Regions from separate parts of the Homo sapiens genome. Here all the other regions are linked to region 4. The links come from fine-mapping of genetic effects on gene expression. A gene starts in region 4. Each other region holds a variant in brackets. All regions are shown on one strand. Distances are between the middles of the regions.

The links.
Region 1: its variant is fine-mapped to the expression of SERINC2 in sun-exposed skin (GTEx, PIP above 0.99).
Region 2: its variant is fine-mapped to the expression of SERINC2 in whole blood (TOPMed, PIP above 0.99). The same link has a PIP of 0.9 or more in lung.
Region 3: its variant is fine-mapped to the expression of SERINC2 in whole blood (INTERVAL, PIP 0.99).
Region 5: its variant is fine-mapped to the expression of SERINC2 in whole blood (INTERVAL, PIP 0.97).
Region 6: its variant is fine-mapped to the expression of SERINC2 in monocytes after LPS (Quach 2016, PIP 0.95).
Region 7: its variant is fine-mapped to the expression of SERINC2 in left ventricle (GTEx, PIP 0.99).

What each region holds. Positions count from the first base shown.
Region 1 is chr1:31,546,118-31,550,181 of GRCh38, forward strand. No RefSeq gene overlaps it. Among named protein-coding and RNA genes, the nearest start is that of TINAGL1, 28 kb to the right of the region's middle. RefSeq lists a silencer at 2,861-2,980 and enhancers at 3,051-3,290, 3,961-4,030. The variant C/A (reference allele first, on the strand shown) is at 2,135.
Region 2 is chr1:31,295,507-31,299,570 of GRCh38, forward strand. It overlaps SNRNP40 (small nuclear ribonucleoprotein U5 subunit 40), which reads right to left and starts at 1,282. Exons shown (of 10, transcript NM_004814.3): 1 at 1,105-1,282. The coding sequence starts at 1,245. It overlaps ZCCHC17 (zinc finger CCHC-type containing 17), which reads left to right and starts at 1,526. Exons shown (of 8, transcript NM_016505.4): 1 at 1,526-1,569. RefSeq lists an enhancer at 1,051-1,260. The variant G/A (reference allele first, on the strand shown) is at 2,235.
Region 3 is chr1:31,332,629-31,336,692 of GRCh38, forward strand. All of the region lies in intron 3 of ZCCHC17 (zinc finger CCHC-type containing 17), which reads left to right. Among named protein-coding and RNA genes, the nearest start is that of ZCCHC17, 38 kb to the left of the region's middle. The variant A/ATCTCTC (reference allele first, on the strand shown) is at 1,675.
Region 4 is chr1:31,411,348-31,415,411 of GRCh38, forward strand. It overlaps SERINC2 (serine incorporator 2), which reads left to right and starts at 1,866. Exons shown (of 10, transcript NM_178865.5): 1 at 1,866-1,957. The coding sequence starts at 1,919. RefSeq lists enhancers at 1,614-2,114, 3,385-3,933 and silencers at 1,681-1,750, 1,831-1,890.
Region 5 is chr1:31,373,385-31,377,448 of GRCh38, forward strand. It overlaps LOC124903892 (a long non-coding RNA gene), which reads left to right and starts at 915. Exons shown (of 2, transcript XR_007065573.1): 1 at 915-1,003; 2 at 3,428-4,064. RefSeq lists silencers at 1-172, 3,418-3,712. The variant C/T (reference allele first, on the strand shown) is at 2,098.
Region 6 is chr1:31,516,794-31,520,857 of GRCh38, forward strand. It overlaps LINC01226 (long intergenic non-protein coding RNA 1226), which reads left to right and starts at 1,642. Exons shown (of 3, transcript NR_027085.1): 1 at 1,642-2,043. The variant C/A (reference allele first, on the strand shown) is at 1,820.
Region 7 is chr1:31,468,927-31,472,990 of GRCh38, forward strand. LOC124903900 (a long non-coding RNA gene) reads right to left here and starts at 2,550. Exons shown (of 2, transcript XR_007065585.1): 1 at 2,140-2,550. LOC105379772 (a long non-coding RNA gene) reads left to right here and starts at 2,192. Exons shown (of 3, transcript XR_001737618.2): 1 at 2,192-2,308. RefSeq lists an enhancer at 1,836-3,035. The variant A/G (reference allele first, on the strand shown) is at 2,032.

The DNA of each region.
Region 1 (4,064 bases), 130 kb after region 4:
CATGCATCCATCCATCCATTCATCCTTCCATCCATCCACGTATCCATGCATCCATCCATTCATCTATGCATGCATGCATCCATCCATCCATCCATCTATGCATGCATGCATGCATCCATCCATCCATCCATACATGCATGCATTCATCCATCCATCCGTGAATGCATCCATCCATCCATGTATCCATTTATCCATCTGTGCAACCATCCATCCATCCATGTATCCATTTATCCATCTGTGCAACCATCCATCCATCCATTTGTTCATCCATCCATGCATCCATCCATCCATCCATCCATCCATCCATGTATCCATTTATCCAACCATGCATCTATCCATCCATCCATGCATTCATCCATCCATCCCTCCATGCATCCACCCATCCATCCATGAATCCATCCATCATCCATCCATCCATCCATCCATCCGTCCATCCATGCATGCATCTATTCATCCATCCATCCATCTACTCAATAAAAGTGTGAGGTCCTAGTCTTCCTGGCACTGCTCCAGACACAGGTAACACATGGTGAACAAGATGGGTGAGAACCCACACGTGTGCAATTTACCTTCCAGTTGGGAGAAGACGGCATAAAAAAACATATAAAGAAACGATGAAGTGGAAGCATTGGTGCTGTGAAGAGAAATTAAACAGGATGAAGGGATAGTGAATGGTAGAGGGCGGGGCTACTTTAGGTAGAGGGGTCAGGGAGGCTTCTCTGAGGAGAAGAGACTTGAAGGGAAGAGGGAGGGGCTGTGCGGTTGGCTGGGTCGCAGCTACAGGCATTGAAACAGCAAGTTCCAAGGCTGGAATGGAGACTGTACCAAAAAAAGGGGGGGCGTCAAGGAGTCCTGAGTGGGTGAGCAGAGTGAGTCAGAGGGAAGTGTAAGGAGATGAGGCAGGAGAAGGGTCCCCACTGCTCCTGTCAAGCCTTGTTGTGTCGGGACTTGAACTTTATTCTAAGCAGGTGAATGCGGTGCATGCAAGAGAGACAGAGAGAATGTGGCAGGACCAAGGAGGAGGCTATGCCACTTATGTCACTCCTGGCAAAAATAAGGGGGCATGGAGTAGGCTGTTTGTGGTGCAGATGGTGAGAGCAGTCAGGTCCAGCACAGATTTTAAAGGTTGGACCCAGAGAATTTGCTGCAGAATCAGATGTGGGGTGTAAGGCAGAGAGGAGTCAAGGGCAACTTCAGGATTTGGGGCCGGAACTGCCATTAGACAGACAGGGACACTGAGGGAGAAGCAGGTTAGGTGGGATTAAAATCAAGAGTTCAAGTTAAGTTTGAGCAGCCTGTTAGACCTCCAGCGAGGGCCAGATAGAAGAATCTGGTTTCCAGGGAGAGGTCAGGATGAGAGATACACACGTGGGAATGATTGGCATTGGGTGGACTTTATATTCTCTGGGTCAGTGAGACAGCTGGGAAGTGACCACGGATAGAGAAGAGACAAAGTCACAGAAACCAAGAGAGGTAATGTTGCAAGGACGGAACACTCAACTCTCAAATGCTGCTGAGACGTGGGCTGAGGGCTGAGAATGGAATTGGGAAGAACCGAGGTCACTGGTGATCCTGAGGGTTTCAGTGGCAAGGGCAGGTGGACTGCAGTGGGGCCCGGTGGGGATGGGTGGAGCATGGGCCCCTCTCCCGGAGAGTTGCACTGTAAACGAGGGCAGACATATGGGAGTGCAGCTAGAGGGAGGGAACGTAGGGTCAAGGGAGAGTTTATTCTGAATGAGAGAGATCACAGCTTGTTTTTAGGCTGACGGGCATGATCCATAGAGGGGAAAGTAATTAAGATGCAGAAGAGAGGCCGGGGGTGGTGGCTCACGCCTGTAATCTCAGCACTTTGGGAGGCTGAGGTGGGTGGATCATTTGAGGACAGGAGTTCGAGACCATCCTGGCCAGCATGGTGAAAACTCGCCTCTACTAAAAATAAAAATAAAAAAAAATTAGCTGGGTGTGGTGGAGGGCACCTGTAGTACCAGCTACTTGGGAGGCTGAGGTAACAGAATCGCTTGAACCCTGGAGGCAGGGGTTGCAGTGAGCTGAGATTGTGCCACTGCACTCTAGCCTGGGCAACAAATTGAGACTCCATCTCAAAAAAAAAAAAATGCAGAAGAGAAAGGTGAGA[C/A]TTGCCAGGGCAAAACCCAGGGTGGTGAAAGGGCTTGGCACCCTGTGCATGAGGGAGGATGTGCCCTCAGTGTGTACCTCTGTGGTACCTGGGTGGTGCTGGTTGGTGGAAGATTTGGCATCCTGAGAATGCGGCATTTTCGTCTGATTCTCTTTTCTCAGTGAGATAAGAACCAAGGTCACAGCCAATAGCCAGGGGGCAGGAGGGGGTCTTGGTGAGGACTCGAGGAGAAGAGGGATGGGGGTGGGAGAGTTAATGGGCCGGTGAAGCCTGGTTGGGTTGCCGGAAGCACAGGGGCCCATTCCAGGTTTGTGGGGTCACCTTGGAGTGAGGCCAGTCATCTGATGTACCTTGTCCTCAGCCACATGCAGCTGCGTGGGTGCAGCAGCAGAATGGGTGGAGGGCTTTGGGGAAGAGCCAACGTGGGCGGGGGGCGTGGCTTGGAGTATGAGGTGGCCGTGGGCTCCCTGCAGGCCCAGGCTCCATTTACGGCCAGCTGCCTGCTGTCCTCGCCCTGCTCCGGCATGCTGTCTTTCCACATCCGTTACCCACTGCGCGCTCATAATGCTCCCACTTTACAGAGGCCATTTACTCTGGCCACCTAGTAGTTGGTGGCAGAGTTGGGATTTGAATCCAAATGGAGGTTCATTGTTCTCCATTCAGGGTAGCAGGGGCACGCGTGCTGTGTTTAAGAGAGACTTGCATGCCTCGTGGTGGAAATAAACTTTGGTGGATTAAACTTTAGGTATTTTGCGCCCTGGTTGGGCCAGGCTTTGTCCCAGTTCGACCACAGTGACTTACTGCCACCTACTGGCCATTCTCAGTGTTGCACCCACGTAGGATTTGCTCACGGTCTGGGTCTAACCATGCCTGGTTCAAAGGGGAGGACCGGAGCTCTTATCTCTTTGACAAATCAGACAAACCAGGAAACAGAGGTCCAGAGAGGTGACTTTAAGCTTTCATCTGCACTTGCCTACCCCATCTATTCAGTTGTTCATTCGTTCAATAAATATTTCTTGGAAACCTACTATGTGCTAGGTGCTGGGGCTCTGCAGGGAATGAGACAGCAGAGAGCGCTGCTCCGTATAGCTGACATGCCCTGTAGGGGAGCGGGAGGGAGGGACACACCATCAACAAGTAAATCAGTGAGAGGATGAAAGATGGCGATGGGTGCCGGGAAGGAACAAGGAGACAGCGACTGGAGAGGGTGGTCAGGAGTTGCCAGTGGAGGGAAGACCTGAAGGGTGAGAGGGACGGGGAAAGACACCCTAGGAAGAGGGAGCAGCGTCACAAAGGCCCTGAGAGGCTGAAAGGTTTGGGCGGGTTCCAGGAACACAGGCGGCCAGGGAGGTGGAGCCCACACCTCAACACACAACTACCCGTGAAGAACGTGGAGCGATCCGTGTAGATCCTTGTAGAAGGTTCTCTCAGAGGGCCATGTCACTGACCTGTCAGTCAGCCCACAGCCTCCTCCCAGTCCCCAGATAGCTGACCACTCCCTCCTTGAAATTCTCTCCTCTCTCAGCTTGTGCAACACCAACCTCCGGTGGCAGGAAAAACTATTATTATTCTCTTGTGAAAATTAAAACTTAACCATCAACATAGAGCTGTTACTGGTTTGAAGGAAGCCATTGACGCTGTGTCAAAGGCTAGAGCAGAAAACAGTGGCATGCAGTGTCAAAGGTCAAAGTCAACACTTCTCGGACTGGCACAGGGAAGGTAGGTCAGGACAGAGTCAGTCTTGCTTGCAGCTGTCACCATGTTATAAGCGTGTTGATGGCCCTGTCTGCTGCTAGTGGTGAGTCATTCTTGCAAATAAAGTGACTATTTATAAGTTTATAGATATGAGTATGCTTTGTTCAAATCCTACGAGTAGTGTTCAAGAAATAAGGTGTGGGAGTAAAATAAGTCTGTGATCCAGTAAGTCCAT
Region 2 (4,064 bases), 120 kb before region 4:
TCCCACAGAGAGGACAGCAAATGCAAAGGTCCTGAAGCAGAGGCTTGGAAGAGAGAGTAACTGAAGCCAGGTGAGCAATAAGAAATTGGTCAGAGAGGTAAAGGGAAAGAGGGCAAATAATTACAAGAATTTTGGTTTTTACTCTGGATGAAGTACAAAGCCACCAGAAAGTTTTCTGCAGAGTGTAATGTGATCTGATGTTTAGAAGGATTCCTTTGGTTATTGGCTTGGTAACAGGTGCTGATACAAAGGTAGAAAGTGGAAGACCAGTTAGGGTCCCACTACAAAAATGCCAGATGAGATAATAATGGCTTAGGCCATGAGGCAATGATGGAGATGGTAGAAGTAGCAATTCTAGACCTATTTTGAGGACGGTGCCAGCAGGATTTATTGAGGAGATGTGAGGACACTCGTATTTCCTCGTCTGAGCCTAAACAGGACATTAGAAGTGTGATCACTATTTCTATCTTACAAAAAATGTAGTTAGGAGCATGGTTTCTCAGTTCGAAATCTGCTTCTATCACGTACTTGGTAAGTCTGTTTTTCCATCTGCAAAATGGGTTAATAACGTTCCTAACAGGCTGCTACCAAGATCAATGGAAATTTCATATACGAAACACTTTAGTACAAGAGTCAATGAATGTTAGCTGCTATTTAGTTGTTAATAATACTAGTGCAGAGAAATAAAGGGAAAAGCAACTTGCCCAAAGTCCCAAAACGAGCCAACACAAATCATTTCCCTTTTTTCTTCCCTCCCTCATTCATTCATTCTACACACTCTTCGGAATTTTTGTTCTATGCCAGATCCATGTTAGAGTCAGGATGCTTAAACCCGGGTCAGGGTTTTGAGCCCAAGGTCCTCAACTCTAATTCTAATGCTATCTCAGGGCAGTCGAGAGGCTGAAAACGGGCGCCAAACGGGGGAACACGTACGCAGCATTCGCAGGCTATGGGGAGCTTTTACAGTGTTTATGTGCTTTAACTCTGCGTAGAAACTCTCGTTCTGCCCCCGCAATGCGGGAAAGGGTCAGGGATCACCAGATACAGCGCTCTGAGGGGAGGAAGATGAGCTGAGGGCCAAAGGCCGCCTGCTTCTTCACTTACCGCTTGCAGCAAGGCTCCCGGCGTCGCCTGCTGCTGCCCGGCTCCTGGGCCAGACCCCGCTCCCAACAGCAACTCATGCCGCTGCCGCTTGACTGGAACCAGCGGCAACTCTGGGCCCTTACGCTTCTGCTGTTCTATCATGGCGGCAACCGGTCTCTTCAGCGCCGCCACTGACCGCGCTGCCGCTCTCAGGCGCCACGCAATTGGTTCCAAATTAGTCCTTCCTCCACAACTTCCAGCTTGGAAGAACCAATCGGCTTTCAATATTTCCATTTGCACCGCCCTCGGATAGTCTCTTGTTATTGGGCATATCTTTCTGACGTCATGAGAGTGCGATACCAGGATTGGTGGACGGAGCTGGCGACCGCCCTAGGCGCGCTGGGTCTTGTGGGTGGAAACGCGCTGGCTGACTGGGGTCGGCGTTTAGTTCAGCGCAGCGACTCGGGGACCTGGAGCTGACGCCTAGTACGTATGAGGAAGAACGGGGTGGGTGGCTGCCTGAGTCTGGAGGCGACGCCTCGGTTGTGCAGTCTGAACCTGCCCTTCTCAGCTGAGGGTGCTGACAGCAAGGGGTGGGAGGCGGGCCCCGAGTCCCCAGCTGTGGTAAGTAGTAGCCTGGGCTCCCTTTCGGGGCAGGAGCGGAGCCTTGGGGTCTCTGGCGGCAAGACCCAGCCCCTGCGGCTCCCTTCTTCAAGAGCGCCCATCGTGGCCAGTCCTGTGCCGGGCATTCCCAGGGAGAAAGGCCTGCGTCCCAGCCTCCTCCGGTGCCCCATTTGGCCGAGGAGGCTGACTTGTTTCTGCCACTGATTTTGCAGTTTTTGATCAGGGCCTACTGTATGCCCCCCTGAGAGAGACAGTGATGAAGGAAATGTCCGACTCCTTCTCCAGAGCACAGTCTTGTTGAGAAATTTGAGACTCATGCCCATGAACGTGGTCATTGCCTCAGTCGTCCTGCTGATATTCATTTAGCAGCGCGTTGGGGGTATGTTGTGAACCGGGCACGGTCCCTACTCTCAGGGCGTTTAACTCTGGTGGGGAAAACGTTAAACAATGACCTCACTAATACATGGAAATGCCTCCTACTGCTGCCTGATGCTATGAGTGCCTGAAATAAGCAGGAAGGTTTTTCA[G/A]AGGAAAAGATGCCTGCGCTGGTAGCTGCAGGAAGTGTTGTAATTAATTAGGTGAAGAAGTGAAGGCAGAACCTTCCATAGAGAACTACTTGTTCAGAGCCCTGAGGCACTTGGGAGGAAAATGACTAAAAGCACAAAGAGCCAGTGTGGCTGGTACAAAGAGAATGAAGGGAGTATGGTACAAGATGAAGCTGTACGTGATAGCGGTCAGACCTTGCAGGAATTTGTAGCTTTTATTTTAAAACGGATGAGATACCACTGAGCCGTCTTCCCCCAGTGGGGTGTGGTGGAGGAGGGGACTTGATCCCTCAGGCTCAGTGGTGTGAACAGACGGGGGTTGGGGAAGCCCTAGTCGATGTATGTGGACCACTTGGGATATGCAGTAATCCTGGTCAGAGATGTCAGTGAGGACTGAGATATGGGTGGAACTGCAGAGAATTGGACAGATTCTAGAGGTATATAGGAGGTAAAATGGGTGGGACTTGGTGATGGGTTGATTTTAGGGAGTGAAGAGAGGAATCAAAGGTAACTCCTAGGTTTCTGGCTTATGTAGTTGAATAGATGGTGGTACCATTCACTCACTATCACGGAATCCCTCAAGCTGGATAGGGAACACTAGAAGATGATTAGAGACCAGTTTTTTTTTGTTTTTTTTTTTTTTTTGAGACAGGTTCTTGCTCTGTCGCCCAGGCTGGAGTGTGGTGGTGCAACCTTGGCTCACTGCAACCTCCACCTCCCAGGTTCAAGCAATTCTCCTGCCTTAGCCTCCCCAGTAGCTGGGATTACAGGCGCCTCCACTGTGCCCGGCCAATTTTTGTATTTTTGGTGGAGATGGGGTTCCACCATATTGGCCAGGCTGGTCTCCAACTCCTGGCCTCAAGTGATCCACCTGCCTCAGCCTCCCAAAATTCTGGGATTACAGGCCTGAGCCACTGCTCCCAGCTGAGATCAGTTTTTATTGATTGATTGATTGATTGTGTGGGGTCATTCATGACATCCAAGAGGCAGTTTGAAATACAGCTTTGTGCTCAGAAGAGAGATTTGTGTTGGGAATATAAAATTGGGCATAATTTGTATATACATGAATTGAGCCATAGGTGTGGGTAAGGTCAGCTAAGTCAGAACCTTGACTAGTTCCAACATTTAATGGTGAAGAACAGGTGAACCTACAGGAGATACAGAAGAAAGGAAGGAGGACTGGAAGAATGTCTCAGAAGCAAAAGAATGATTTGTGATAGAAATTTCTAGAATTTAAATAACATGAAGATTGAAAAACATATTTTGGCTTTTATCATCATGGAGGTCACAGTAACCTTAGCAAGAGTTATTTTGTTGGTGTGATTGGGCCAAAAGCCAGATATGAGGCAAGGATTTGGACAAGAAAATGTAGGTAGTGAACCTACACAGTATTTTTCATAGATCTGATTGTAAAGAGGAGGAGAGGATGTGCTAACCGATGGGGATAAGGGATTATCCAGGATCCAGTTGAGGATCCAGTTTTGAGAAATTTGAGAATATTGTAGAAGATTTGAAAGTCACTGTGGAGTGTGGGAGAATGAGGTTACTAGAGAAATGTAGGATGCAAGGAAAAAAAAAATTTTTTTCCAGCATATCCAGCGGTTTAGTGCATGCATGGAGAAAACCTTTCTGGGTATGGCAAGGACATCGCTTGCTCAAGACACATTCTAACCTCTAATATGTCTTCTCTTCCTGAAAAATCTGGAAAACTAAAAACCATTTTCTTGACTCCCTTGCACCTAAGGTGAAAATTGAATTTGGAACTGAGTTAAATGTGGAAAGAAGGAGGGTGTGAGTCATCCAGTTTTGCTG
Region 3 (4,064 bases), 79 kb before region 4:
GCACTGTTAACATTTTGGTGTATTTCTTTTTTTTTTGAGATGGAGTCTTGCTTTGTCACCAGGCTGGAGTGTAGTGGCATGATCCTGGGTTCAGGCAATTCTCCTGCCTTAGCTTCCCAAGTAGCTGAGACTACAGGTGCCTGCCACCACACCTGGCTAATTTTTGTATTTTTAGTAGAGATGGAGTTTCACCATGTTGGCCAGGCTGGTCTTGAACTCCTGACCTCAAGTGATCCACCCGGCTCAGCCTCCGAAGGTGCTGGGATCACAAGCATGAGCCACCGCGCTTGGCCAACATTTTGGTGTATTTCTGTATATTCACATATGTGTACACAATTTAATATGTTGAGATTAAGATTATACTGTATATTTAAAATGTGTAGTTTTTTGCACGTAATGGACCTTAAACATTTCCCCATTAAAAAAATATTTTCTATAAACATTTAATGGCTTTATTCTGTCATTCAGATGTACCACATAATCATTTTAAGTTGTTTCCAGTTTTTCACTGCTAACGCTTCTAGACTGGTCATGTTTATCCAGGAGAGAGCTACCTGTACCAAAAATAAAATAAAATAAGTACAATAAAATAATAAAATAGAATTTAAAAAAATGCCGGGTGCAGTGGCTCACACCTGTAATCCCAGCACTTTGGGAGGCCAGGGCGGGTGGATCAAGAGATCAGGAGTTCAAGACCAGCCTGGCCAACATAGTGAAACCCTGTCTCTACTAAAAATACAAAAAATTAGCCGGGCGTGGTGGCAGGCACCTGTAATCGCAGCTACTCGGGAGGCTGAGGCAGGAGAATCACTTGAACCCAGGAGGTGGAGGTTGCAGTGAGCAGAGATTGTGCCACTGCACTCCAGCCTGGGTGACAGAGTGAGACTCCATCTCAAAAAAATAAAAAATAAAATACATATGTGTGTGTGTATGTGTGTGTATATATATAGTTTACTCTCACTGACTCTTAGATATACTCTAAAGACCCATGGAAATTCAGTTGTAGCATAAAATAAATACATTTATAGCGTAAAAGAGCAAAATATTTCAAATTAACTTGCTTAAGCTACTTAAAGACAAAAAAAGTTCATTTGAAATCTTTTGTCATTTTTTCACTGGTTATATGGAATCAGGTGAGAGAAGGACAAGTTTTGATGCCATTATTTCTATGTGGTACTCCAGTAAATAGACTTTCTGTTTTAGGGAAGAAGAATAGTGTTCCCTCAAGTATATTAGGTTCAACATTAATTTCCATCATAACTTTCATTAGCAATAGAGGAAAGAGATGAATTTTAACCAGTAGAGGACAGTTGCAGCCAAAAACAAGTCAAGATGAAGGGCTTCCCCTTTATGGGATCTGAATTTCCTCTTCAAACTTTAAAATTAGGCTAGTTGGCTCATTACATCATAGGGGAAAAAAATAAACCCCATTTGCATGAATTTCACCAAATTTGGAGATTGTGTGTTGATCTAAAATTAAAAACATAATGTATATAAAACATTTTAGAGGCCCCAGAGTTGTTTAGATAGGTAGGCTATCAACCTCCAGAATCAGCTTATGTAGGTATGTGGGATGTAGTGATGATGGATAGAGAAAGTAGTGGCTCCCAGTAGGAGCTCTAAACAGAAAGGGCAGGTATTTTGAGTTTCAGGCATCTGCAGGCATCCATGTGC[A/ATCTCTC]TCTCTCTCTCTCTCTCTCTCTCTCTCTCTCTCTCTGTGTGTGTGTGTGTGTGTGTGTGTGTGTGTGTGTGTGTGTGTGTGTGTGTGAAAGAGAGAGTGGGAGAATGAGAATAGAGGTGGATAAATTTCCCAAGCAACTTCAGGGAGGGCAGTTATTTTAGACAGGATGACTGATTTTTATTCATTCAGAGTAATTATTTATGTTCATTTTCTCCAGAATTGAAGTAATCCTCTATTATTATTTATTATCGAAAATAAATGAAAAGGTTAACTTGTAATACTATAACCACTGTTGGCATTTCAAGTCATTTCTTTCTAATTTTTAAAATGTTTTTAAAGCATTTGTAATCATACTGTATAATTTTGCATTATGCTTTTGTTATTTAGTATGGGAAAATGCTAGATACCTACAGTACTTGATACATAATAGGCACTCAATAACTATTTACTAAAGAAGGAATTATTGACTTGTTTAAAAATCTTTTGAATGGACCATCAAGCGACTATACCATAATTGACCTAATTGTTATCCTTTGTTGTTTCTAAATTTTCCTGTCTTAAAAATACATTGAATATTTTGATGTAAATCACTTTTCCTGAAGCATATAGTTTTTCCTATGTATAAAGTTATTTTCTTAGGACAGGTTCCCAGAAGCAATTAGGGGTCAAATAAAGTATTAGAACTCTTGGTTGCAAGGGGCAGAAACTTAATTGGGAAACATTTTGGCCAATCTTGTCAGGGGCTTCCAGGATAACTCTCAGTTATGTTTCTCAGTTATGTTTCTGCCCCTTGTCTCTTTCCTCTATTGCTGGGACTTCAGCCTTTGCTGTATTGGGTGCTCAGTTTATACTCCCAGGGCTTTGCTTCTTGTTTACCAGTGCTCTTCTTTGCTTTTCTCTGGCAGACTCTTGCCATCTGGTGGTAAAGATTGGCTTTGGCAATTTTTTGTAGTTTACAATCCTGATTTGTATATGTAAAATGTAATAAGCAAGGTGGTTCTCCCAAGGAAAGGATTTTGGACAGACAGGAAAAGGATGTTTGCTATAAGTGTTTTATTAAATGTTATTAAAATATTATTTGATTTATTTTTGAGACAAAGTCTCGCTCTGTCACCTAGGCTGGAGTGCAGTGGTGCCATCACAGCTTACTGTAGCCTTGACTTCCTGGGCTCAAGCCATCCTCCCACCTCAGCCTCCTGAGTATCTAGGACTACAAGCATGCACCACCACATCCTATTAATTTTTCTGTAATTTTTCTAGAGATGGGGTCTCACTGTATTGCCCAGGCTAGTCTTGAATACCTGGGCTCAAGCAGTCCTCCCAAAGTGCTGGGATTACAGGCCTGAGCTTCCATGCCCAGCAATTATTTCATTTTAAATTATTTTTATTAAATGTGTAATAGTTTATTAGTATTTTATCATTCTTGATAGCCATTGATAGTGACTTCCAAAAGTTTATTCTAGCCTTAGTAATAGTTCTTATTTTACTATCCTTTCACCACATTGAATATTATTTTCTAAATACTTTGCTAATTTAATGGATTAAAAATAGTAGCTTGTTTATATTTCCTTTTTTAACTTAACGTCTATCATAAATATTTTTTGTAATTAATTTAAATGGCTGTTTACTTTTTTATTCCACAGATTTACTATGTTTGCCATGCTGTTTTCCAGTTATTGTTCATTAGGGTTGTTTTATGGTTCTTATATATTTTTTAACCTCTGTAGGTAATAATACCGCAAGTTATTTATGTATTTATGTATGTATGTATGTATTTATTTATTTGTGAGATGGGGGTCTTGCTCTGTCACCCAGGCTGGAGTGCAGTGGCGCAATCTCAGCTCACTCCAACCTCTGCCTCCTGGGCTCAAGCAGTGCTCCCACCTCAGCCTCTTGAGTAGCTGGGATCACAGGTTTGCACCACCACGCCCAGGTAATTTTTGTATTTTTGGTAGAGATGGGGTTTTATCATGTTGCCCAGGCTAGACTGCAAGTTATTTCAGCTCTGTAAGTTTTTTGGCTCTTGTGAGTTTTTCCTTTGAAAAAATTCTATTGATGATATTCTTGCATCAAAGATAAACATCTTTATCTTTTTGCTTTCAAATAATTTTACCAACTTATATTTCTATCAGTATTGTGTAACTACAGATATTTTATCACATCTTTACTAATATGGAGCATTACATTTTTTAAATTTTTTGTTTTTTATTTTTAAAATAAGATTTACAATATTTAAAAAATAGAGATGGGGTCTCGTTATGTTGACCAGGCTGGTCTCAAACTCCTTGCCTCAAGGTATTCTCCCATCTTGGCCTTGCAAAGTGTTGGGATTACAGGCGTGAGCCACTGTGCCTGGCCTATTTTATTTACTTATTTTTTTGAACCAAGGT
Region 4 (4,064 bases):
CAGTGATCACAGTCAACGTTTATTCGACGCTTGATTTACATTTCGCGTGTCACTACTTCTTTGTTTCTCGGTTTCCTCATCTGTAAACGAGTGGGTGGGGAATTAATCGACTTCTCAGGGCTGTTGTGGGGCTCAAATGGTACCACGGGGGAAAGTTGGGCATGTGCTCGGGTTGTTTGTGAGGCCATAAGGGAGGCCCATATTGTTTGGAGGCTTGGGGGAATCAGGAGGATGTTCATTCCTAATGGAACCAGGTAGTGGGTTGGGGGTGAGGGTGGTGGCTCTCTTCACTGAGAGGTATGGCATGTGAGCAAGCTTCAAAGGGGAGAAAGAGGGATAAGGAGAAGGACCTTTAAGAGGAGGGCATCTGCCAGGTGCAGTGCCTCACATCTGTAATACCAGCACTTTGGGAGGCCAAGGCAGGAGGATTGCTTAAGCCCAGGAGTTCGAGACTAGCCTGGACAACATAAGGAGACCTCATCTCTACACAAAATTTTTAAAAAATTAGCTGGGTGTGGTAGTACACACTGGTGGTCACAGCTACTTGGGAGGCTGAGGTGGGAGGATCACTTGGGTCCAGGAGGTTGAAGCTGCAGTGAGCCATGATTGGGCCACTGTGTTCCAGCCTGGGTGACAGAGTGAGACCCTGTCTCAAAAAAAAAAAAAAAAAAAAAAAAAAAGAGGAGGGCATTGTGTGGGCAAAAGTGCGGAGGAGGAAAAGTATAGGGTGTGTTTGTGGAACAGTCCTGGTGCAATTAATGGCTAAGCCTGGCGCCCAGTGAATCAGCCAAGGATGCAGTCAACCAGCTCTTTGGCCCTGGGGCCAGCTTCGAGGCACAGAGACTTCTTTCCCTAACATTATCTTGTCCAGAGGTGGCTGAGGACAGGGCTAAGGGTGAAGGGAGACTAATTACAGAGCCCTACTTCTGGGTCTCTCACACCTACCCCTGGAAAGCCATCTGTCAGGAATGTGGCCGCCCCTCCCCACCTTCTGACCTCCTTAGCTAGGGACCAGTTTGGGCATCCCTAGGGAGTGATAAGCCACCAAGCAGGGGTGGCTGTAGGGAGTGTGTAGCTCCCAGCAGGCTGTTGGGAGTCAGTGGAGTTTGAAGAACAGATGGAGAGAAGGGAGGATGGGTTTAGAGTGAGAGGCTGGGGTCTTAGAAGAAGCAGTAGGTGGGCATGGTGGCATGCACCTGTAGTCCCAGCTACTCAGGAGCCTGAAGCAGGAGGATCACTTGAGCCCAGGAGGTCGAGGCTGCAGTGAGCTATGTTTGCACCACTGCACTCCAGCCTGGGTGACAGAGCAAGACCCTGTCTCTTAAAAAGGAAGAAGAAAACAGTGACGATGGGGGCTTACATTTGTCAAGCACCTACCATGTGTTGTAACCACCCTGTGAGGTATGTATCCTCACTTTACAGACCGGGAAACTGAGGCTCATAGAGGTGCAGTGACTTGCCGAAGTTTCTTTATCCAGTCATTCAGCATTCAACCTCAGCATCTACGTATTGAGCAGAGGCCCTGCGCCAAGCACTGAGGAGTCAGCGGTGACCACCTCTTGGCTTCTGTTCCCAAGGGTGACAGTGTCCTGGGGTCACACGGGCTCAAACCGAGGTCGATTTCCGAACGCTCACTTTGGAGCAGGATGCGAGCCCGGGCCACGATTGGGTCAGGTTGCGCCGCTCGCGTGGCCGCGGGAATCCCCGACCGGCCCCTTCCCTAGGGTCCCTCCTGGCGCACCTGCCCCAGGTGAGTCTGGGGAGGCCCCGAGCGCCGCCGGAAAGCGTCGAGCGGCTTCGGTAGGTGGGGCGGGGCCGGGGCGGGGCCGGGGCCGGGGAGGGGCCAGGCCCGGCACCCGGATCCCGAGGTCCGCGCCCCGCGCCCGGCGCCGGGCGCCCGAAGCCGGGAGCCGCCGCCATGGGGGCCTGCCTGGGAGCCTGCTCCCTGCTCAGCTGCGTGAGTCCCGACCCCGGCGCCCGCCCGCGCGCGCCGCCCGTTCCTGCTGCGGGCCCTCACTTTCTTCTGTTCTGCTCCGAGTAGTTTCTTCTTTTTCCTTCCTGCAAACTTGTCTTTCTGGGCCGGTGCCCCGCCTGCTCGCCCTCCTGGACCTTCACTCGGCACCCGGATCCCGCTGCCCCCGTCCCCCTGCTCAGTCCTGGCCGGCAGGCGCCGGGCAGCTGCGGTCCCGGCTCGGGTTTCCGCGGGCAGGAGGGGAGTGCCCTCGGCGGGCGCCCTCCTGGGACCTGGAGAGACTAAGCCTGGAGCCCGGGGTCGGGGCAGCTCTGTGGGCCCTCGTCGCCCCACTTGGGGCGGTCCTCGGGGTGGCCTCTGTCCCCGTCCCGGACGCCCTGGTTCTCTGTGTAGGTCGCCCGGGCCCCGTCCCTCCTGGCGAGTGCCCTGCCCTACCCCTCTGGCCGCCTGCCAGTCCGCCTGTTCCTGTCGCTCGGGCTCCGCCTGTCCGTTCGTATTTGTCTGGTTCCTGTCTGTGTCCGTCGTTCGTCCGACTGTCTTTGTCCGTCTGCTGTCTTCTGTCCGTCTGCCCGTCCGCCCGTCCGTCCCTCAGTCTCTCTGCGGTCCCTTTACCGTCCTCAGTCTGGCTCGCGCTGCCTCTCAGGCACTTCCCCAGCTCGCCCCGGATCATCTGGGCCCCAGCGCGGAGACTGGGATGGGAGCGGAGGGAGCCCCGGACTTTCTTAGCTGCCCTCGAGTGAGGCGGGTGCGGGTCGTCACGGACCACCGGGCGGAACTCTGGGTTGGGAGAGCAGGAATCGAGGGAGGTTCGGGTGTGCGCGGGGAGTGCCCGGTCGCGGGTTCGGGACCTGTGGGGAGGCCAACCTCTGTTCTGTAGCTGCAGCCGCAGAGGGGAGGGGCTCCAGCAAGACCCCGGCTGGGAGGCCCGTTCTCCCTTCCCTTTCCCCAGCCCCCCTCTCCTTTCCTCTTCCCCTCATTAAATCTGAGGTTCATTCAGGCAGCCCCCTCCCCCTCTGGCCCCACACAAAGAGGCCCTGAGAGGGAGAAGGGGCTGCAGCGGCTGCTGAATCTCGGGACTCGCTTTCCTTTGTCCCTGACGGGTTGTGTGTGTGTGTGTGTGTGTGTGTGTGTGTGTGAGAGAGAGAGAGAGAGAGAGGAGGGGGTGTAGGGGAGAGCTGAGGGTCTAGAGATTTACTTTACAGCCTTTTTCTGAGAATGAGATCAGCATAGACAGCACAGAGAGGCAAGAGAGCCTCTCGCCTCATTAGGCCTCCATTTTTCGTGTGTGTGTGTGCGTGTGCATGTGCGTGTGCAGGAGGAGGAATCAAGCTGGTGCCTGAAATCCCTCCCAGCCCAAAGAATTCAAGGTTTGGGCCAGGTCTCTGCCAACAAGGGTTTGCTTCCTGGTGAGGGAGGCAGAGCTTCCACAGTGGACCTGATTTCCATCGGTTGCACCTGGTGAGGCACAGGCCCTGCTGGGCTGGCCTGGGGGTGGAGATGTTGAGGGGCAGCCTGCCAGCCCTGTGTGCCTTGGTCACCCCATCTGGCAGTTGACAGTAACAGGGCCTTTCTCACAATGCTGTTGGGAGATGAGGCACAGTTCCTGGCATATCGTGAGTGCTCCTTGTGGGAATTATTGCTAACATCAAGGAAAGGTGGGTGGAGAATTCCATTTGGAGACAATGCAAAGCCAAGTGCTGGTCTCTGAGTTACAGCATTCTACAATGCTGAGAGCAGATAGGACTGCTCAAACCATCTGTTTACAGATGAGAAGACTGCCACCCGCCCGGAGAAGATAGCTGACTTTCCTAAGGTTGCACAGGGAAAGGATGAAGAACTGCATAGTTAGGATCAACATCTGATTCCTGGTCCAGGCTTCTGCCCACACCTTCCCTCCCTTCCCCACATCCTGGCTGCCTGAGGCACAGGGCTGGTCCAGGGAAGAATTGGGAGATAACTTAGTGAGTAATATCAGCAAGGGACCCGGCCCTCCCTTCAGTGCCATCCCCTTGGGGTTCTGGCCTCCGACATTTACTGAGGTTCTGGCCTCTGACATTTACTGAGCCAGGTACTGTTCCGAGCCCCTCACCAT
Region 5 (4,064 bases), 38 kb before region 4:
TGCCATGGTGGATATCTTCCCGTCCCCCAGTCCCTCTTTGAGCTTAGCGTCAGAGCAGAGATGAGACTAGAAAAGCAAAACGCCCTTGGGCTGGTGCCCACGCCGGGGAAAGCTCTGGTTGACTTCTGGCACGGGCATCTGTCCTCGTTTTACAAGTGAGGAGTCCGAGGCTCACAGGGGAACTGACAAGGTCTCAAGAAATAGGAGGGGGTGAATGGAGCTCAGATTGCAAGCTTAGTCTAGCGGGCTTCAGAGCTCGCGCTCTCCCTTCACTCTCACTGCCTGGTGGCGGAGACAGTCACCAGCGGCTCGGTCTGCGGCTGAGCTGACCTTGTCCTCTGCCTGTTTTGAGCAAAAGCCTGACCCTTCGCGCCCCGCCCGCCTCACACGTGCTTGCCCCTCCCTGCGGAATGTCTCCTGCTGGCCCTCCTCCGTCCCCACCCCACCCCACCATCTAGCTCCCCACCCGCCCCTGCAAGTGCTCTGGGCTTTTCCGGTTTCTTCGCACAGCTCCGAGCTTTAGCTCAGGTCGTTCCCAGCTCCCCTCCTGCAGAAATTCTGCCAATTCGGTCAGCTCTTCAAGGCCCATGGCTGCCTTCCCCACCTGCCGCCCTTTCTTTGGCCTGTGCACACTAGCAAGCCGCCTGCACTTTTGGGTAATTTGCTGCCTCCTTTCGAGAGCCTGTTGTGCGGTGGTTTGTCACTGTATAGTTTACTAAGCACTTTCAGTAAAAATAAGACCTGCCTTGTCTTGCTATTTATTGCATGCTGAGGGCTTTGGGTGTATTGTTTCATTGAACTTTTTATTTTATTATTATTTTTTAGAGACAAAGTCTCTCGCTGTGTCTCCCAGGCTGGAGTACTGTGACGCCATCATAGCTCACTGCAGCCTCAAACTCCGGGGCTCAGGGGATCCTCCTACCTTAGCCTCCCCAGCAGCTGGGACTATAGGCACACGCCACCACACCTGGCCTCATTGGACTTTTAAAGCAAAATCCATGAAGTAGGTGTTACTGTATTATTTTCTCTTTTTAAAAAGGTGAACAAGTTGAAGCTCTGAGGAGCTCACTCATTAATTCAGCAGTTAATAAAGCACCTACTTTGTGCCAGGCCCTGCTTTGGAGAGAGACAACAGGGAACAAGACACACATTCACCTCTGGGCAGCCAGACATAAAACTAGCGTGGTGCCTCTAAAGGGAGTCCTGTCCTGTCCTGACCTGAGGGCCCAATGTAGACTTCTCAAAGGAAGTGAGGTATAAATGAATTTCTGAGGGATGGCAGGAGGCCCTGCACACCAAGGAGTAGTGCCGAACTGAATTTCAGCCAGCAGCAGCCTGTCCAGGGTGGGCCTGCAGGAGCCAACACAGGAGCCCAGAGGCCTGCCACGTGCGTAGAGTATGGCAGGCCCTCCTTCCTGGGACTCTGTTTCTCCATGTGCAAACCCTGCCTCCCTTCCCTGGACTGTTCTGAGAACAAGGCCAGGGAGGAAGAGCCCTCTCCCCACCCTAAGATCTTGATTCCTTTGGACGGTCCAGTTGCCAGAAGACTCAGAGGCTCATTTCTGCCAAAGCTATAGGGACAGGCTTCAGGGCTGGGCATGGAGCCTTGGTGATCTCACTGTTGGAACAGGTGCCAGGAGAGGAGGAGGGGGAAAAGATGATTTCTGACTCAAGGTCGCAGCCCTCACACATAGGGCCTCCTCTCAAGGACTGTGTGGCCAGGAACTAGAACTGACTCCTTATGTGGCCCTTGTAATGCAATGATGGAGAGCTGGGGCTGGGCTAATGGCTGCTGGCAGATCTGCGTTCTGATCTGAATTTTGTTGGGTACTAGCTGTGTGGCCTTGGGCAATTCACTTAAGCCATTCTGAGTCTCCATTTTTTTTTTTTTTTTTTTGAGAAGGAGTCTCGTTGCCCAGGCTGAAGTGCAGTGGTGTGATCTTGGCTCACTGCAACCTCCACCTCCTGGGTTCAAGCAATTCTCCTGCCTCAGCCTCCCAAGTAGCTGGGATTACAGGCAACTGCCACCACATCTGGATAATTTTTGTATTTTTAGTAGAGACGGGGTTTCGCCATGTTGGCCAGGCTGGTCTTAAA[C/T]TCCTGACCTCAGGTGATCTGCCCACCTGGACCTCCTAAAGTTCTGGGATTACAGGCATGAGCCACCACGCCAGCTTCAGTTTCATCTTTAAAATGAAGGGATTTTTTTTTGGAGATGGAGTCTTGCACTCTGTCACCCAGGCTGGAGTGCAATGGTGTTATCTCAGCTCACTGCAACCTCTGCCTCCCAGGTTCAAGTGATTCTCCTGCCTCAGCCTCCCAGGTTCAAGTGATTCTCCTGCCTCAGCCTCCCAAGTAGCTGGGACTATAGGCGCGGGCCACCGCGCCAGGCTAATTTTTATATTTTTAGTAGAGACGGGGTTTCACCATATTGGCCAGGCTGGCCTTGAACTCCTGACCTCAAGTGATCCGCCTGCCTTGGCCTCCCAAAGTGCTGGGATTACAGGCATGAGCCACCACGCCTGGCCTATTTATTTATTTGGAGAGAGTCTCACTCTGTCACTCAGGCTGGAGTGCAGTGGCATGATCTCAGCTCATGGCATTCTTGACCTCCCAGACTCAAGGGATCCTCCCACCTCAGCCTCCTGAGTAGTTAGGACTACAGGCGCATGGCACCACGCCTGGCTAATTTTTTGTGCATTTTTTTGGTAGAGACAGGGTTTTGCCGTGTTGCCCAGGCTGGTGTTGGACTCCTGGCCTCAAGCAATCTGCTTGCCTCGGCTTCCAAAGTGCTGAGACTACAGGTGTGAGCCACGACACCTGGCCCGAGATAATACATTTAAATGCTAAGCATGGTTGACTTACGAAAGTTCACTGCTGCTGCTCCTCCTGCTGCTATTGTTATTGTCTCCAGGGATAGTGCAGACACCTAAGACCTAGTCTGAGCTCTGCCACTACCTACTGAGTTAGTTACCTGAGGCAGATTGCTTTGCTTCTTTAATCCTCAGTTTTATTATTTCTGGGACAGGATTAGAAAGGGCTTCAACTGAAAAAGGGGCTATAGAGGTTTTTCAGAATGGGTTGGGGTGGGGTCACTGCCAGAAAATCCATTTGCTCCCTCTCTTGGGCCTGTCCAAATTGAGCAGCACGGGGCTTTGAGGAGCTCTACTCGACAAACCTCAGACCAACTACCCTCACTGCCCTTCCCTCACCTCGCCATGGTGCTCAGACCTGGGTCACCGAGGTTAACCCATAAGCCACACCCCATCTCCTTTCCTCCTGGTTTACACCCTTCTCCCTTCTAAGTATGTACAGTTCTCTCCTCATCCCTCTGATCTACCTGCATCCTCTTCCTCTGTTATGCTGACTACATTTGGGGAAGAATGTGAGCCCTGTCCCTTTTTGTACTCCTCTGTCTTGCCCTTGGCAGATCCAGATGTGGATATAACATCTGGCAGGCAGCAAGACCAGCGCCTGCCAAGAACAGCATCTCCCCAGCCCTCATCCTATGGTGAGGTCACTGTTCTATGTTTCCACGGCAACCACAGGCTGGGAAGATGGAGAAGAGGAGAGATGAGTAACCAGAAGCCAGCCAATGAGATGAGCTGCAGCACCGGATGATCCATGGGGCCATGGGGAGCGGGGACAAGGGAGGCCTGCTCAGCATGTTCAGCTGTTTCCTGGACCCTCCCTGCCATCTGGATGCCTCCACTAGAGAATGTGCTACTAGCACCAGGAAAGAGCTAGAGGCTGAAGAAGCTGAGTAGAAGCTCTGCTGACCCAAGAACATGGCCCTCCTTTTTTGCCTCTTCAGGGTCTAAGTCTATGGTTGCTGACTACCCCCGCCCCATCCCACCCCTAATATCTGCAACTGGGAACTTTTCCCATTTGCTGGGAATGATGGTGGGGCTCTTTCTGCCTCTGCCTGCCATAGAACCAGCAAGTCTTAGACATCCCTTCTTTTTATGCCCTTGGTCCATGGGGTCTTTGTTACCAGAAAGGGGTCCCAATCCAGACCCCAAGAGAGAGTTCTTGCATCTCACACAAGAAAGAATTCGGGGCAAATC
Region 6 (4,064 bases), 110 kb after region 4:
TACCTAACAGCGTAGTTGTGACTGCAAAGGAAAAGTTATCCTCAGCCTTTCATGTGTATTGGCTTATTCAGTCCTCATAACAACCCTACCAAGTAGCATGTGTTAGCCTCACCATTTGGCAGAGGAAAATGGAAGCACAGAAAGGTCAAGTACTTGCCCAGATCAGCAGCAGAACAGGCTCAAAGGTTGGCAGTCTGGTTGCAGAGTCCATGAACTTCACTACCACACTCCACAGCAGTTGTGAGACCATGGGCAAGCCATCTAAACTTTTGAACTTTAATATCTTCATCCATAAAATGGGGACGATAATACCCTGCCCCATTGCCCAGTGAGTGTGTACACCCTTAACTCGGTGCATAGGCTTGGGTTGGCTTGATCCGGTCTCATTCATTTCTCCCCACCTGACCCTACACTTGAGTCAGAGTATCTCATGTTGGCTGAGCTTGAAGTATGCAGGAGCACACCCCAGAAAGGCCAGGGCACAAGCCCTGCTTGGGGTGGAGCAGGGAGGGCCTGCTCTGCCCCACTGGGGTGTTCTTAGGTGGAAGTGGGTGTGGGATGGTCCCTCTGGGAGAACTCTCTCCCTCCAGCCTCCCTGCAGAGTCACCCAGGGAACTGAATCACAGCACAAGTGAAATGGGAAAAGTTCCCTTATCCCCCTCGCAGGGCCTGCAATGGGGGTGTGGCTCGCTTCTTTGGTACCCTGCTGCTCAAACCTCTAGGGGGAGCATGCAGATGGGCAGGTTGTGGGGCTTCAACCCCACGGCAGTGTCTAGGGGTGAATGCTTACAGTTCCTGAAGCCCCAATGGGTGTGTGTTACAGAGCGCTCTTTTAGTTTTGCTATCTGTAGGCAGCTTGTGTTAATCAGCTCGATTAGATCCTCTGCCTTATCACAAGGACAGAGGGCTTTCTGTATCCCAGGGTTTTTGCCTTGGTGTACTGGAGGAATCAGATCACACGTGGGCTTAGGGACCGAGTGCAAGTTTTTATTGAGTGGAAGTAGCTCTCAGCAGATGGGGGAGCCAGAAGGGAGATGGAGTGGGAAGGTGAACTATCAAGATAAAATCAGTCTACTACTCCATAACAGAGGTAAGGAAGAGTATGCATGGAATACAGGACATCCTTTAGAGCATCTCTTAGTATTACCATGCCCTTTGATTAAGGTCAATGGGAAACTACAATAGCGCAATCCAGGCAGGACTACAAATAGCCCAGACCCCTCAGGAATGAAGGTTTGGGTCACTCCACCAGGAAAAAAACCACAACCTGCTGAGGTGCTTGCTGAAGGCAAAGGGAATACAGAATGGGTAGTAGAAGAAGGTAATCATCAATACCACCTATGACCATGTGACCAGCTGCAGAAATGCGGACTGTAACTATCATGAGTATTTCCTCCTTCTTTGGCTAAAAACATGTTTGTGCATGTATACACTTGTACGAAGAAAATATATCCATTTTATTTCCTTTTCCTTTATCATGTGACATAAGATTTACTGACTTCATATCAACATTTAAGTATTATTAACTTTATGTAATAATATTTGGGTTGGGGATTGGTGGGTTTCCAGTTGTACCAAGGATAGTTGTATTATTTTAGGCATAATTATGACCTTATTATTGTCTTTATTTGAAGATTATGTATGATCTCAGGAGATGTGTATGGGTTCAGCTTGACAAGGGGTGGACTTACCATGGTTAATACTGAGTGTCAACTTGATTGGATTAAAGATGCAAAGTATTGATCCTGGGTGTGTCTGTGAGGGTGTTGCCAAAGAAGATTAACATTTGGGTCAGCGGGCTGGAGAAGGCAGACCCACC[C/A]TTAATCTGGTGGGCACCATCTAATCAGCTGCCAGCGAATATACAGCAGGAAGAAAAAGGTGAAAAGGCAAGACTGGCCTAGCCTCCCAGCCTACATCTTTCTCCCATGCTGGATGCTTCCTGCCCTTGAACATCAGACTCCAAGTTCTTCAGTTTTGAGACTTGGACTGGCTCTCCTTGCTCCTCAAGCTTGCAGACAGCCTATTGTGGGACCTTGTGATCATGTAAGTTAATACTTAATAAACTCCCTTATATATATATATATATCCTATTAGTTCTGTCCATCTAGAGAACCCTAACACAAGTGTTTTCTTCATTTTCCTTCATATTTATGAAGTGTGCTTTCTTGCCATCCTTTCCAGACTCATCACCTTATGTTATTAGTTGACTTTTTAAAAATCATTATTATTATTTGAGATGGAGTCTCGCTCTGTCACCCAGACTGGAGTGCAGTGGTGTGATCTTGGCTCACTGCAACCTCCATCTCCCCAGTTCAGCCGATTCTCGCGCCTTAGCCTCCTGAGTAGCTGGGACTGCAGGTGTGGGCCACCACGCCTGGCTAATTTTTGTGTTTTTAATAGAGATAGGGTTTCACCGTGTTGGCCAGGCTGGTCTCAAACTCCTGACTTCAAGTGATCTGGCTGCCTTAGCCTCCCAAATCGCTGGGATTACAGGCATGAGCCACTGTGCCCAGCCTCTAACTCTCTTTTAACATAAATTAATTCCTCTTCCTATATTTGTTCTCAGTGCTATTGACTTCCTGAAGAAACTGTGTCAATTCTCATGTAGAGTTTTTACACTAGGGATACAGTCACTTGCTTCTTTATACTTCATGGGATACCTTGTAAGTCTCCAGTGCATCACACCTGGAGGCATATGATGTCTGCTGGTCTTGCTTTTAATGATGCTAAGATCTATCTTTAGGTTCAGGCAATGGCAACCTTACCCTTCACTGAGAAGTTCTCCATCAACCTTTCACTGAGTGATTTTGGCATCCATTGAAAACCATTGCTTGAATCAGTTATTTTCTTAGGGGCTTAAAAAATGATAATTTTCTGATTCTAATTTTTTCTTCATGTAGTAGCTGAAATTCTTCTGCATAGAAGAGCTTTCCTTCATTCATTTTGGCTATTTAATTACCAGAAAATGCAGTTAGGCATAAAAAATGCTTAATTCTTTTCCTTTAATTAACAATTTTTAGAGTAATAAGTTGGTGCCCCAACTTCCCCAACGGTGCCCAGTAACTTTTATTTTCTTTCTGTATCTTCTTTTCTTCTCCTGCTCTTTTTCATCTGCTGGCTAGAAGTAGGGTACTTCAATACCCTAGGAGATGGCAAGACCTCATGAAGGAAGTTGCCTGGGTCCCTGAATGACTACATGGAGCTAATTCCTTCCTGTGACTTGGGGAAGAATGGGACTGTGATGGGAACAAGAAATGAGCTTTCTTAGTCACAACCCACTGAGATTGTGATGGTTTGTTACAGCATTGACCCTATCCTGACCAAACAGCTATTACATTTTTATTCTTTTTTATTTTTTTTTTAAATTCTTTTTGAGACAGAGTTTAGCTCTTGTTGCCCAGGCTGGAATGCAATGGTATGATATCGGCTCACTGCAACCTCCGCTTCCCAAGTTCAAGCAATTCTTCTGCCTCAGCCTCCCAAGTAGCTGAGATTTCAGGCGCCCCCCACCAGGCCCAACTAATTTTTTGTATTTTTAGTAGAGACCGGTTTCACCATGTTGTCCAGACTGGTCTTGAACTTCTGGCCTCAGGTGATCCACCTGCCTTGGCGTCCCAAAGTGTTGGGATTACAGGCGTGAGCCACTGCGCCTGGCCTACATTTTTAATTTCTAAGAGCTCTTTCTTGTTCTCTGATTGTTTCTTTTCCATAGCATAGTGTTCTTGTTTTATGCATATCTCTTCTGTTTCTGATGATGTTTAACTCTTAATGACACATTCTTCTGTTCTGTGCATTTTTTTCTGCCTCTCCTGACTTCCTTTTTATTGTTTGTGGGTTTTGCTCTCAATTTCAACTAAAACTAGTTTAACATTTATTTGGAGGAGGAACAACATTATGTGGAGGAAGGTTTAGAAAAAGGAAGGTTTCTTTTGACAGTCCTTGGCTTCTCTTTCCTGTCCTAAACAATTCAGCTGTGGTCCACATTTGCTCACCCTAATTACTAGCAAAGCAAGAGCCTAATATTTACCCAGACAGAATCTTCTAGGAAGGCAATCAACTCCCAG
Region 7 (4,064 bases), 58 kb after region 4:
ATCTATTACTGTAAACCACTGGTGACTGTAATAGTATAAGGATTGGGAACAATAGGGTGGGTAGTTTGGATTATTTGATTAATAGCTCCAAGGTCTTGCACTAACTGGTATGACACGTCTGGCTTCTTTTTTTTTGATACAGAGTCTCACTCTATCACCCAGGCTGGAGTGCAGTGGCGCAATCTCAGCTCACTGCAAGCTCCGCTTCCCAGGTTCACACCATTCTCCTGCCTCAGCCTCCCGAGTAGCTGGGACCACAGGCACCTGCCACCACGCCCAGCTCGTTTTTTGTATTTTTAGTAGAGACGGGGTTTCACTGTGTTAGCCAGGATGGTCTCAATCTCCTGACCTTGTAATCCACGTGCCTTGGCCTCCAAAAGTGCTGGGATTACAGGTGTGAGCCACTGCGCCTGGCCCCCATCTGGCTTCTTTACAGGCAATATTGGAGTGTTATAGGGAGACACACAGGGTTTAAGAAGCCCAACACCAAGACGACCTTCAATTATCAATTATAGGTCTTAAATTTACCCTAGTTTTCAAAGAAATAGGGTACATTGCTTTCTCTTTACTACTTCCCCAGGTGTTTTTAATAGTTTTTTTTTTTAATTTAACATGAATTGGAGGAATCTGTAACTTTCCTTGCTTCCCATCTTTTGCTGTGGTGGTAAGTTTAGGGAAAGGAGGAATTTTCTATGATTGATTTCGAGGCCTAAGCCTAATTTTAGCATTAAATCTCTTCCTTATAGATTTGTCCCTGCTTCCAGAATTAGCAGAAAGTTAATATTAGCTGATTTGCTTTTACATATGACTTTATTCTTTTTCCCACTTGGGACATTCTTTTTTGAAGTGACCTATTTTTAATTTGAAGCATTTGTTTTGTCCTCTTTCCCTTTTCCTCTCCCTATCTCTCTCTCTCTCTCTCTGAATTCCTCTGTCTCTTTCCCTCTCTCTCTGACTTCCTCTGTCTCTTTCCCTCTCTCTCTCTCTGACTTCCTCTGTCCCCTCTGTCAGTCTTTCTCTCGCCTCTAAGATTTTTTTCTCTACCTTTGAGTCTCCTGGCTTTACTCTTTTGTACCCTTTATGTTGCCTGGAGAGTGGGGGTCTAGGTTCTTTATAGGTTCTTGCCCCCTGGGTACTTTGTTGTATGGTGGACAGCAGAATTTTTGCCCTCTGCTTTTGTTTTTCTTCATCTCTTCCTACATATACTTTTTGGGCTTCTCTTAGAAGCTCTTCTATAGGTTTATCTTTCTAGTTCCCTATCTTTTGTAATTTCTTGTTAATATCTGGCCAACTGTTAGTGACAAAATGAAGTTTTAACATTCCCTGTCCAAGGGGATCCTCGAGACCTGGACCAGTATATTTTCTCATTTATTCCTTTAATCTGTCTAAAAATTCTATAGGCCCTTAATCTTTCCCTTGCTGTATATCAAATGTTTGGGTAAGATTCTGGGTTCGGGGTACTGATTCTTTAATCCCCTTTATTATCAATTCCTTAAGGTCTTGCATATTTTCTTGGTTGGCTGCATTGTTATTGTCCCACCAGGGGTCTTGGGTGGGAAATTTTTGATCCGCTGTAGGAACGTTTTGGCCGGAAGCCGGGGGCGGGGTGTTCATGGTTCCTAGGCTCCCATTGCAGCCCTATGGATCATGCCTCTTTCTTCCCCTGAGAAGAGGGGAAAGGGAAGTTCTGAATATCCTTTTTACATTGCTCTATCTCGTGTGAAGTCCTTTTAGGGAAGGGTACTCAGGCTGGTCGTGAGTGGGCTCTTGGGAACATTCCCAAGAGGCAGAATTATAAGGAGAGGGACAACAGGGATAGGAGAAGGGTCTGGGACAGCAGCTGCTTTTTCTTGTTTTTGGTCCTTTCATTACCCTTCTAATATTTTATCATTAGGCTGAGCGGATTATTAGGGGGAATATTATCATTGCTAGTGTATCCTTTTTATCCCTTACCTTACTTGGGGTATTTCCCATTTTTAGTGTGAGGCTCAATTCCCCTTGCTAGAAATGTCTTGCCTATTTTTAACCCTC[A/G]AGATACCCCAACCAGGGAATACTTCACCGCCCCACCTCCTCCGTGTCTTTTCTTACCTTGATATGTCCTGATCAAGGAATACCACCACCCCCTGTGGCTTCTCTTACCTTGGTCTGTCCCAACCACCAAGGAAATACTTTGCTGGCTCCCAGGCGTTTCCTTCCTCGGTCTGTGCACAGAGTTGCCTGGTCACTGTGGTGTGTGAGGATCCTTTCCCCTGGGTCGCCGGCTGGTTTCTTTCGACATTGCTGAGTCCAGGTTTATTTGTCACACCAGGTGAGTCTCGATTCCTGACTCTTGAGGCCACCGCAACAAGGCAGTGGGGCGTGAGAGAGGAATAGAGGCCACCCCTAGAGGAGAATAGCTCCCCATATGGGCCACGAGATTGTTAGAAACAAATGCCTGTTCCTTGGTGCTGCAGAGAAATAGCACTTGAACATAAATTTAATTTTCTCAGCCAGGTAATTTTTACTTCTATAGAAGGGTGCGACTCGTGGTTGGAGTAATGGCGAAAGCACACCTGAACAAGGGGAGGGAAGCGGTTCGTATTCCTGGTGCAGGTAGTCCCTGCTGTTGTGTCATTCCCCTATTGGCTAGGATTGGACCGCACAGTGTAAGCTAATTCCGATTGGCTATTTTAAAGAGAGCAGGGGTACAAGCTGGAGTGACAGGGTGAGAAGTTTGGCGGGAGGGGTGGTTACAGAACAGTTGACTCAGGATGATTCAGGTCAGAGCAGGTGACAGGGGTGACTCAAGATGGAGCAGGTGACCAGGGGTGACTCAGGACAAAGCAGGTGACCAGGGGAACAGATGTGAACTACTGATTAGAACTGGCAGGAAACTTGTTTACTGAAACTAGAGGCAAGCGGGGCAATAGAACCAGGAAGTTAGACTTTAAAATGGAGAATAAAGAGAGCTGAACATACTGACATAGTGATTCTTTGAAAAGAAACTTGGAGTTCACGATCTTTAACAAGAATATCTAGTTCTTCCTGATTTAAGCCAGGAGGGTTGTATCTTTCCAGGAATTTATGCATCTCTGCTAGGTTTTCTAGTTTATGTGTGTAAAGGTGTTCATAGTAGCCTTGAATGAGTTTTTGTATTTCTGTGGTGTTGGTTGTAATACCTCCTATTTTGTTTCTAATTGAGCTTATTTGGATTTTTCTCTTCTTTTCTTGGTTAATCTTGCTAATGGTCTATCAATTTTATTTATATTTTCAAAGAACCAGTTTTTGTTTTATCTTTTGTATTTTGTTGTTGTTATTTAAATTTCATTTAGTTCTGCTCTGATCTTGGTTATTTCCTTTCTTCTGCTGGATTTGGATTTGGTTTGTTCTTGTTTCTCTAGTTCCTTGAGGTGTGACCCTAGATTGTCTGTTTGTGCTCTTTCAGGCTTTTTGATGTAGGCATTTAGGGCTATGAACTTTTCTCTTAGCACTGCTGTATTAGTTTGTTTTCATGCTGCTGATAAAGACACACCTGAAACTGGGAATAAAGAGAGGTTTAATTGGACTTACACAGTTCCACATGGCTGGGGAGGCCTCAGAATCATGGGTGGTGGCAAAAAGCACTTCTTACATGGCGACGGCAAGAGAAAAAATGAGGAAGAAGCAAAAAGGGAAACCCCTGACAAACCCATCAGATCTCGTGAGACTTATTCACTTTCATGAGAACAGCACAGGAAAGACCGGCCCCTGTGATTTGATTACCTCCCCCAGGGTCCCTCCCAAAACATGTGAGAATTCTGGGAGATGCAATTCAAGTTTAGATTTGGGTAGAGTCACAGCCAAACCATATCATTCTGCTTCTGGCCCCTCCAAATCTCATGTCCTCACATTTCAAAACCAATCATGCCTTCCCAACAGTCCCCCAAAGCCTTAGCTCATTTCAGCATTAACCCAAAAGTCCATGGTACAAAGTCTCATCTGAGACAAGGCAAGTCCCTTCTGCCTATGAGCCTGTAAAATAAAAAACAAGCTAGTCGCTTCCTAGATACAATGTGGGTATAGGTATTGGGTAAATATAACTGTTC